2 separate regions of the Homo sapiens genome follow, and region 2 is linked to region 1. Evidence: fine-mapped QTL for protein levels in blood plasma. Region 1 holds a variant in brackets. A gene starts in the other region. All regions are shown on their reverse strands.

Region 1 (5,000 bases):
CTCAGTCATTCTTTTGATTCTCCAGAAAGACTCCTGACAGCTCAGGAAAACCCCACCCAACCCTGCAGTCCACTGCCTCAGCCACCGCCTGCTGAGCCCTCGAAGGGGTTGGGGGTCCTGGCACCCTGGGGCTACTTCTCCATTTTCTTTTTTTTTTTTTTTTGAGACAGAGTCTCTCGCTCCGTTGCCCAGGCTGGAGTGCAATGGCACCATCTCGGCTCACTGCAAGCTTCGCCTCCTGGGTTCACGCCATTCTCCTGCCTCAGCCTCCTGAGTAGCTGGGACTACAGGCGCCAGCCACCACACCCAGCTAATTTTTTGTATTTTTAGTAGAGATGGGGTTTCACCGTGTTAGCCAGGATGGTCTCAATCTCCTGACCTCATGATCTGCCCGCCTCGGCCTCCCAAAGTGCTGGAATTACAGGCGTGAGTACTTCCCCATTTTCTTTCTATTAACACTTTTCCCATTCCAAACAACTACCCCAATAAGCACCATAATAACCTCACGCTTCCTTTCAGCTCTAACACTCCATACCATTTCTTTCGAGATCAAGGGTTTTTAAAAGTTCACATATACGAGGAAGAAATGTAGGAAATGGCACACATTTCAGGGCTACTGAAGTGCCATTTTCAGCCAGAGGAAAATAGGTAGGACACATGACAGAACACAGCCCTGGCTCTCTGAGGACTTCCTCTGACCTCACCTTCCCAAACGGAGGGCCCCCCAGCTCCTGGCCTCCCCTCCCAGTGTCCGGGACTGGGATGCACAGGGGCTAATGAGCACCTCCCGCTCAGGGCAGCGTGAACCCTGCTCAACAGTCTAGAGAAACTCGTGGCGCCCGAAGCTAGGTGGCACCACAGAGCATCCAGAGACAACGACAGAGCGTGGTGCACTCACAGGATCAATGCCAAGGGGATAAGGGCCTCGGAACACTCCAGGAATGCTTGGATCCAGCTGCAAAATGCTGTTGTGTCTAACGACGCTGTCACTGTAACAAAAAGCAGAGTGAGGAGGCTGACCTGGGAGGAGGAAGGTCTAGGAAACATGCTTTCCACCCAGAGCATCACCAGCTATGGGACACTTACTTCCAAAGCACCATCTTCTTATGCTCTGCGGGTGGGTGGCTGGAGCTGTACATGGCCGACACGTTCCACCCAGAGCCGAACAGGTTGACTGACTTTGAAAAGCAGTCGTTGTAGATGAGGCCAGTGTACACTGAGAACAGCCCCATCAGCAGGAGGATGTACCGGCCATTAAAAAACATCCTCATGATCTGTGAAGGGCAAGGCGGGGGCAGAATATGGTTACTGGAGGGTGTCCATGTGACAGCTGTCGGTGTGGGCACGACCCTCACCACTCACTTCTCAGAAAACAGCCTCGCCCCGCAGACATCCCTGTCAGCCGCAGCTGACAGGCCACACACCTGCCCAGCACAGCCGCAGCCTACAGCAAACATCTAAGAGGTGTCTCTCTTTCGGTCACTGCTAATGCCACCTAACCAGATATATGAGCTGGAGTGTTTATATTTTTACCTCTTGTGACTGATTTAGTCTGGGATGATTTTCATTTAACACCAACAAGAGGGCAAATAAAAACATCACAAAGCCATGTCCGAAGTCTCCAAACATCACAGCAAATAAAAACGGGAAGGTGATGATGGTAAAGAGAGCTGCAGAAAAAAGGGAAAGAGATTTCTGATTCACAGCAAATATGGAAAACCTGAGTTCATTCAAACACAATGATACATAACAATCTTGACTTTCTCCAGAATTCACAAGATAGGATTGTGTGGTTACATTTAAAACCTTATACTTTTAAATAAGATAGCAAAAAAGTAATGGTCAGCCTCTCTTTCCAAATATCTATTCCATTCTTAGAGCAAGAATGCAACAATGCCATTGGAAATACGGGTATTTACAAATCAGACTTCCAACCTGGATTGACTTCTCTGTAGCTTCCGACTCCATAAGCATCCACGATGTTCTGAAATCCCTCGGTGAATTTGTTGGTGCGGATCCGAGTGGGGGGTGTTTCTTTTGTGGGGATTATATTCATGAATGAGGGGATTGTAGCACCACTCTCTCTCTTCCACATAAACAAGGAAAGATAAAAAATT[A/T]CTATCCAAGAAGAAAATAACTATCCATATTCAACGAATCTGGGTTACTGCTTTGTTTTTTGGTTTTTTTTGGTGGTGTTGTTTTGTTTTGTTTTTTTTTGAGACGGAGTTTCACTCTTGTTGCCCAGGCTGGAGTGCAATGGTGTGATCTCGGCTCACCGCAACCTCTGCCTCCCAGGCTCAAGCGATTCCCCTGCCTCAGCCTCCCTAGTAGCTGGGATTACAGGCATATGCAACCATGCCCGTCTAATTTTGTATTTTTAGTAGAGACGGGGTTTCTCCATGTAGGTCAGGCTGGTCTCGAACTCCCGACCTCAGGTGATCCACCTGTCTCAGCCTCCCAATGTGCTGGGATTACAGGTGTGAGCACCGTGCCCAGCCTTGTGTTACTGCTTTGGCAACGCTGTGTGTGTGGCTTTGGTGCAGGATTAATCTCCACTCAACAGGGTCAAGAGCAGCCAGAGGGCCTGGAGGAAAAGTCCATCTGTGAGGAATCAGGGGGTGGCAAGGGCGGCACTTGGGGCCTGTGGCCTCCAAGAAGGAAGGGTGAGAGCAGGACTGAATGCGCCGGAAGTGAATGGGGGCTGGGGAATGCGGGGCACGTGGGTATGGAGTCGGCTCAGTCACTGACAGAAAACCGACACTGAGTACTTTATCTCTTAAAAACGGTGAAGAAAGAGGAAGTTTGAGACAACTGCAATATACTTAATAAAAAAATGAGAAAGGCAAGAATAAACCAAAATGTCAACATGAATTCTATTATGGCAGAATCATAAATATAACTTTATCCATCAGTGTTTGCAATTCTTCTGAAATGCATTATATTGATTTATAATGAAAACACTTTTAAAATAAGGTAAACAGGTTATTGACAGAATAGTAGATTTTCTGGTCAAAATAAGTCTTTTTTTTTTTTTAAAGAAGGAGTCTCGCTCTGTCACCCAGGCTGGAGTGCAGTGGTGTGATCTCGGCTCACTGCAACCTCTGCCTTCCAGGTTCAAGCGATTCTCGTGCCTCAGCCTCCCAAGTAGTTGGGATTACATTGCACACCACCACGCCTGGTTAGTTTTTGTATTTTTAGTAGAGACGGAGTTTCACCATGTTAGCCAGGCTGGTCTCGAACTCCTAACCTCAGGTGATCTGCCCACCTCGGCCTCCCAAAGTGCTGGGATTATAGGAGTGAGCCACTGCACCCGGCCAAAATGTGTCTCTTAAAACGTATGCATGTAATGGGGTTCTGGGGAAATTCTCGAGGGTGGCACAGCTTTGAACGTCCCCAAGTCCCCTTCAGAACAGAAAGTGCAACCAGCTAGCAAGACCTAAAGCCTACGGATGGCATTTACAGCCAAACCACGTCCCCACAGTCCCCAAAATACAAATGGGTGAGGAAACCACCAACAGCTACAAGACCTACCCAGCAGCCTCCAGAGCAGAGGATGCAAGTAAGCAATGTGGCCTCCAAGGGGCCTGGGCCAACAACACCAAAAATGGCCAGAAAGAACCTCCCTGGGAAAGCAGAGGAGGCCAAACCACAAAAAGCAGCTGGAACTGGGAAGAGTTCTGTCCAGTCCAAGAGTAGGCGACGGCACAGGGGCCATGGGCAGTGAAGTCTGCAGGGGTTGGGGCAGGGCAGCCCAGTCCCTAAACTCACGGCACTGACCTGCCAGGTCCTCCCCTGTTGAGCGGCCACACGCTGAGGAGAAACTGCTGGGAGTGAGATCAAAACTGAGCAGGACAGGAACGAAAGAGAAAAGACAGAGGAGTTCACAAGAGAGACACAGAGGACATCTCAGATCCAGGACCCGACGTGTTTGCATTCAGTACACAAAAAATAAAAAAAAGAAAAAACCATCAGTGAGGTTAGGATCGCTATCCTGAACCTGCCATCTTCTAAAAGTTCCTTGAGTACCATAAACATCTGCCAGAAAACTATTTTCATGTAAATATACATTTATATTGCTTGTGTAATAATATAGAATCTCCTTGAGCAGGACAGGCATGGTGGCTCATGCTTGTCATCCCAGCACTTTGGGAGGCTGAGACAGGAGGGTCACTTAAGCCCAGGAGTTCAAGACCAGACACCGTCTTTTGTAGAGACCCCATCTCTACAAAAAAATATAAATAACTAACTAAATAAATAAATAAATTAGCCAGGCATAGTAGTGCATGCCTGTAGTTCCAGCTACTCAGGAGGCTGAGACGAGACGGGAGGATTGCTTGAACCCAGGAGTTTGAGATTGCAGTGAGCTACGACCATTACCACTGTTCTCCAGCCTGGGAAACAGAGTGAGACCTTGTCTAAAAAATGAATTTCCTTGAGCAGCTAAGCATCTTCACCATGTTCCATAAATCTTTTTTTTTTTAAACCTCCGCCTCTGGGGTTCAAGGGAGTCCCGTGACTCAGCCTTCCAAGTAACTGGGATAACAGGCACGTGCCACCATGCCTGGCTAATTTTTTTTCTATTGTGTATTTTTTGTATTTTTTAGTAGAGACAGGGTCTCGCCATGTTGGCCAGGCTAGTCTCAAACTCCTGGACTCAAGTGATCCGCCCGCCTCAGCCTCCAGAGTGCTGGGATTACCAGCGTGAGTTACCGCATCCAGCCTCAAAAGTCTAATTTCATTTAAAAGTGAGCAAGAGGAGGGAGAAGCCCAATCTTACATAAGGTCATAAGAAGAAAAAAGCCAAGGAGTAGAATACCATCCCCACAGACAGTGAGAAGATGCCAGAAAGAATGTCCACAAAACAAATAAAACCATTGTAACTTACTGTTTCAAAAGGAGTTAAAAGAATTAAAAAAAAAATACAGGACAGGAAAAAGCACCAGGAATCAGATTTTAAAAGACTCAGAAATGAGGTAACAGAACTCAAGAAGGAATTAGGA
Region 2 (5,516 bases), not on the chromosome of region 1:
CCAGGCAGCAAGAACCTTGTGCCCCTGAAGTCAGGCTGAACACTCTCACTTCTGAAAGCTGGACAATCCTCAATGCCAGGCTTCCCAAGAGACTCAATTTGTTTTGCTCTGAGAGATGGTCCTATAAGCACAGTTCCCCTTTTCTCTCGTAAGCAAGATACTCAGCTTCAGCACTGACCAGCCTCACAATCCGTCCTCACCAAGTGGAGGGCCCTCCCTCCGGGTTCCTCCACGGCCGTATCTGTCTCTGTTCATACACCTTCCCCTCAGCACTTAGAGACACGGGCTGGCATGGCGGGTGCTGGCGGCAGGGGTGAGAAATAAACTTTCAGCCCTAGAGGAGGAGCCCAAGAGGAGAGCATGCCGTCACCTGGAGTCTCTGGTATGTGCCTGGCACCTGTACTGATTGCATTAACCACTGTGATTTTTTAGAAGATGTACTAGTTTGAAATGTATAATACATACGGAGAAGTGTATGAAATATGTACAATTTAAAGATAAGGAAAAATGCATGCCTGTGTGCCCACCACCTAGTGAAGAACTACAACCTGGACACCACTTTGGAAGCCTGTCTGTGTTCACCCGTCGCATTCTCCCTCCTCCCCCAGCCCAGGTATCCTCCATCCTTTAGCCATCCCCTGACTTTCTTTAGTTTCATTGCCTGTGTATGCAGCCACGAATAAAATATTGCTTAGTTATCTGGGAAACCGGGCTGTATAGGAAAAGGGCTCTTAGAACCCCACACCACTGTCAGATGCAGGATCCCAGAAGACTCTGCTCCCAGTCCAGCTTCCAATTCCTGTGGGTTTATAACGGGCCTTTCTAGAGACACTGGGGGCAGGATTCACAGAGCTGGAACATTTGCAGTTAGGACCACATTCCAGATGACCAACAGGGACATGCTTGGGGGGGATAGGCCAATTTGGACTATCCCCTTCTAAGCCCACCAAGACCTACCTGTAGCTCTCAGGAGTGGGGTCAGGGCAAAACATGTATGTGGGGTAAAACAGGTGACCTCTGATTCTAGGCACCAGGAGATGGAGAGAAGAGCAGGAACGAGGGAACACAAGGGGAAGGCAGGCACAGGTGAGAATCTAGGCCAGGCTCACCTGGCCATTCTGTCCTGAGGCTTAAAAACATGCAATGATGGCAATGACAGCATTTGATCTGTCTCTGGAGTCACTTCGCATGAGGTCATTCTCCCTCCACCACCCTCCTGGGGGATTCCTTTACCTCCTCTCCCCCATACATCCCATATTGGGAACTTGTGCTTCCAGCTAAGATGCAGTAACAGACTGAATTTACCCTCTTGCCTGAAACAACTCAACAGCTGGAAAAAAAGAAATGAAACGATGGCTCTGAAAATACTAGAAAAGCAGCACAGGACAGAAGCAGATCACCTTGATTCCAGGGACCTGAAATCTTCTCTGGAACAACACAAGATACAATTTAAATGTAAATTAGGGTAGGCCCAGTGGCCCACGCCTGTAATCCCAGCACTTTGGGGGACCAAGACGGGAGGGTTGCTTGAGCCCAGGAGTTGGAGAACAGCCTGGACAACATAGGGAGACCTAATTTCTACCAAAAAATTTCAAAAATTAGCTGGGCGTGGTGACACGCACCTATAGTTCCAGCTACTTGGGAGGCTGAGGCAGGAGGATCGCTTTAGCCCAGGAGGTCGAGGCTGCAGTGAGCCATGATCATGCCACTGCACTCCAGCCTCGATGACAGAGACCCTATCCCCCCACGCAAAAAAAGGAAATGAATTAACATTAATTCCTCTCAAGATGCCCAGGCTCTATTCACCCCCTTTGTCATTGTCCCTCCAGTTGGAAATTCCTCCCTCCCCCCGCAAAATCCCGCCCACCCTTGGAGGCCTTTTCAGATCATTCTTGCCAGATGAGCTCCCCTTGTCCCTTCTCTGAGCCCAAAGGGGCCCAGCTGCTGTCTGTCTCCCTCCTTCCCCTTGTTTCCCGCGCTACCTCCAGGGCACTTCCCAACTCACTGGCCAAGCCCCCAACGAGCGGTCTATGCTAACTTTGGCTCTGTGAATTTCCTAGAGTGTCATGGGTTGGGGAAAAGCGCGCGAAGTCCTGCCTTGCAGCAGGCGCGAGAGCAGGCGCTTGGGACGCGGGTTGGGGCAGGGGCCCCGGGACGTAGGGGGACGTCTGCGCGGCCCTGCGTCCCCGGGACAACCTGGCCTGGGCTTACCCACGGCCAGGCGCTCCGCGGAGGGCAGAAGCGGGCTGGGCCAGGCTCCTCAGCGCCAGGCCCGGGCCGCAGTGCCAACCCCGCAACGGCACTGGACATGCAAGAGTCGGCGTCAGTGCGCGTGAAGCCGGAGCATTATCAGGCTCAGCCAAACGCGGCCCGGTTCTTGGGCTTTCCGCTCTTTCTGTGGGGCAGAGAGGGAAAGAGGCCTCGAGTCGTGCGGGCTCCAGGCTCCGGGCTCTGGGTGAGGCCTGATCCCTGCTCCCACCCGGCCACCCTCATTCTCCAGTTGTATCCCCTGCCAGAGTCTGCAGCCTCGGGCCGCGGCGTGGTTGCCTGGGAAACGCTTGCGCCTGCGCAGGGCTTCCTAGGCGCTGGAGTCCGCCGGCGGCCTCGCCGCTGCCGGCCGCTCACGGAGGAACTACAATTCCCAGGAGACCGCGCGGTGGGTGGGGGCGGGGTAGTGGGCGGGGCATCGGCAGGCTAGGTTTTCTCCGCGCAGCGCCAGTCGCAGAGGAAGATGGCGCCGCGGAGGGTCAGGTCGTTTCTGCGCGGGCTCCCGGCGCTGCTACTGCTGCTGCTCTTCCTCGGGCCCTGGCCCGCTGCGAGCCACGGCGGCAAGTACTCGCGGGAGAAGAACCAGCCCAAGCCGTCCCCGAAACGCGAGTCCGGAGAGGAGTTCCGCATGGAGAAGTTGAACCAGCTGTGGGAGAAGGCCCAGCGAGTGAGCGCGGCCCGCGGTCGGTGGAGCGGGGCCTGGGGGCGGGGGCCGTGGTTGGGGTCGTTGGAGCGGGGCCCAGGGGTCGGAGGCGGAGGGGGGCGCAGCCGGGGCACCTGTGCCCTACGCGCCCTGTCCTTGGCACAGCCTCCCCCAAGTGTCAGGTGGGGCGCCCCGACCCCTTCTGCAGCAGGAAAGGTACCCGTGCCGGCGACGACGCCGTGTGAAGCAGGTGGCGGCCGGCACCCCGAGGGTCAGTGTCGCCCTCCCCAGCCTGGGCGGCCTGCTGACCCGAGCGTAGGGACAGAACCAGGCTAGATCACAGGTCTCCTGCCTCCCGAGCCTTTGCCTGTTCCCTCAACCTTATCTCCCTATGTGGGGAAACAAGAAAAACAAAATGTTGGGTAGAAAGACGTGTCCAGGGACAGAAGGAATCCCAGTAGCAAGCCCGTGCTTGTTCATTTGAGCGAGAAATGAGGAGGTGAGGAGATGGGATCGGTTTAGAGCACATAAAACGCGACCTTGGGAATGCTGAAAGTCAGTCTTAACAGGGCGCTCACCTGACCTCTCCTTCATTTGAGAGATGAGGGTACGGAGGCCCCGAGGGGAAAGGGCACCCCCAAGGTGGCTCGGCCGGTGGGGCCCCCCGGGACAACAGCTTCCTAATTGGTGCGTGACCCTGGGCCAGCTGCTCTCTTCATTAAGATACGGTTGCTTCATTTGTTAGGTGTTCCTGAAAACACCTGAAATGGGTGTTTTCGAACTATGCCGACCATCTGGGCCTCATTATCTCATCTCAAATGCAGGAGTCAGATTAGATCTCTGTCTCAATAGTCCAGTTTTAAGCATTCCTGAGTCTTTGAGAGGGAAAGTAAGTGATTTGCAGAATAAGAAGGAACTTTTGGAACGAAAAGGGAGAGGAGAAACAGGTGGGGGACAGACAGACGACAGACGGTTATAAGACTGCGTGGGGATGGGGATTGACGCCTGGGCATCAGCTCCACAGGCCCTTCCTGAACTGCTCCTGGGACCAGCAGTCAAGCCCCAGGCGTAATGTTCAGCCTGCGGAGGTGGGAGGTGGGAGAACGCTCTGGGCTGGAGCGGCAGGGCGGCTTCTTGGAGGAAGGGATTCTGGAGGGGCTGGGGACACGGCTGGGTTTGGATGTGTTGATGGCCTCCCAGCAGCAGGGAACAGGTGTGACCAGGAGCAGCCGGGATGCAGTGCTGCCTCCCCGTGCCCACTGCACTGGGCATCTGTTGAGTGGGTGGAGTCCCCCCTCCCCATGAGGAATGGGGAGCCCGAAATAGACTCCCTGACCGATTGGAGGTGGCGCTGAGGAAGTGCACTCGGACCCAGGAACCCCAGCGGCTCCCTTTTGGGTGCTGGCCCAAGTCTTCCACCTGCTCTGCAGGGCCGCCCTGGTGCGCTCCACCTTACCTCCAGCCACCTCCAGCTGGTCCTCTGTCTTTGTCAGCCCAGGCCTCCTGCAGCAATACACCTGCCCTCAGGCTGCCCCTGCACTGGTCCAGCTACCCTCGGGCTGCCCCTGCACTGTCCCCCGGTGCTGGGTGCTCGCCTGACCAGTTTCAGTCTTGGGTTGGGTCATGTCTCCTAAACCTCCCTGAGGTTCACTGGGCACCATGGTAGGGCGAGCTGCTCACCTCCACTTTGGACTGAGCCTTGGACTAGATGATCTTTCTGGTCCCTTTAAGTCCTGAAGTTCTAGTTGTGTGGGCAAGTCTTTTTTGCTGAACAGAACGTGAAGTTCTTCGGGGGTGAGGGTGTTTTGGGGGATTTTGTGTGTCTTCCCCCATTCCAGAGAGCCTGGTACTATGGCAGGCAGGCCTGCAGAGCCCATTCGTCCTGATTTTCCTTCCAGATAACGGAAGCTTGGAGGGTGGCGGTGCTGTGAGGGTGTTCTATCCTGGAGCCAAGTGTGCAGGCGTCAGACCCGTCCGGGTCTTTTTGAGGTTCTCAGTGGCGGTAGTGCATCCCGGGTGGTCTTTGTGCTGTGGCTCTTTCTGCCGAGCGTGCCAGGGCCCAGGGTGGTCAGGAGGCAGGAGGAGCCACAGTCAGTTCAAACGTAGGGGGAGAGAATTGTTCGTGCAAATAGTCACTCCAGTCGGCTTCTTACCCCACCTGACTCGCCGCTCTAGGTAGGTATCAGACGGAGACGGGGTCTTGGATCGCCCCCTGGAAGATAATTGAGGTGAGGGCTGCTTTTTCAGAGAAGCACTTCCTGCCCGGCTCTGCAGCCACTGCTCTCAGCCTCCTGCGACCTGCGCTCAGCAGCCAGGACGGTCTTGTCCTTTCTTTGGTTTGCTTCATGAAAACATCGTGTCCCTGTTTTCTGCATGTAAAGCCACATCCTGGCATATAGGATTGCGTAGTGTGTCAGTAGGCATAGGGTGAAGGGAGCGTTTCAGGAAACCTTTGCCTTTGATGGGCTTGGGCTGTGAGACCTGCGTTGAGGTTGCCGCCAAGAAGATGCTGAGACCCGCTTTCATCAGGCGAGACCCGGCCAGGGGGGTGCTGCTTCATCCTCTCCAGCAACTTGAATCTTGACTTTCTGTGACTCTCCCAGTT

Alleles and levels. Alleles are on the strand shown, and positions count from the first base shown. The strength of an association depends on the size of the effect and on how common the allele is.
For the plasma level of the protein whose gene starts at base 2,722 in region 2, A is the low allele of the variant in region 1 and T is the other (weak association).

What was found. PIP is the posterior inclusion probability: the model's chance that the variant is causal. The UK Biobank Pharma Proteomics Project read protein levels with antibody pairs (Olink). The fine-mapping took linkage between variants from a reference panel, not from the people measured, so its PIPs are less certain.
Region 2: LRPAP1 starts here. The variant in region 1 is fine-mapped to the plasma level of the LRPAP1 protein (UK Biobank, PIP 0.95).

What each region holds. Positions count from the first base shown.
Region 1 is chr12:123,740,871-123,745,870 of GRCh38, reverse strand. It overlaps ATP6V0A2 (ATPase H+ transporting V0 subunit a2), which reads right to left. Exons shown (of 20, transcript NM_012463.4): 10 at 1,936-2,086; 11 at 1,534-1,670; 12 at 1,087-1,274; 13 at 899-989. Among named protein-coding and RNA genes, the nearest start is that of DNAH10, 19 kb to the left of the region's middle. The variant A/T (reference allele first, on the strand shown) is at 2,118.
Region 2 is chr4:3,529,628-3,535,143 of GRCh38, reverse strand. LRPAP1 (LDL receptor related protein associated protein 1) reads left to right here and starts at 2,722. Exons shown (of 8, transcript NM_002337.4): 1 at 2,722-2,935. The coding sequence starts at 2,732. RefSeq lists silencers at 2,483-2,542, 2,983-3,232 and an enhancer at 2,733-2,942.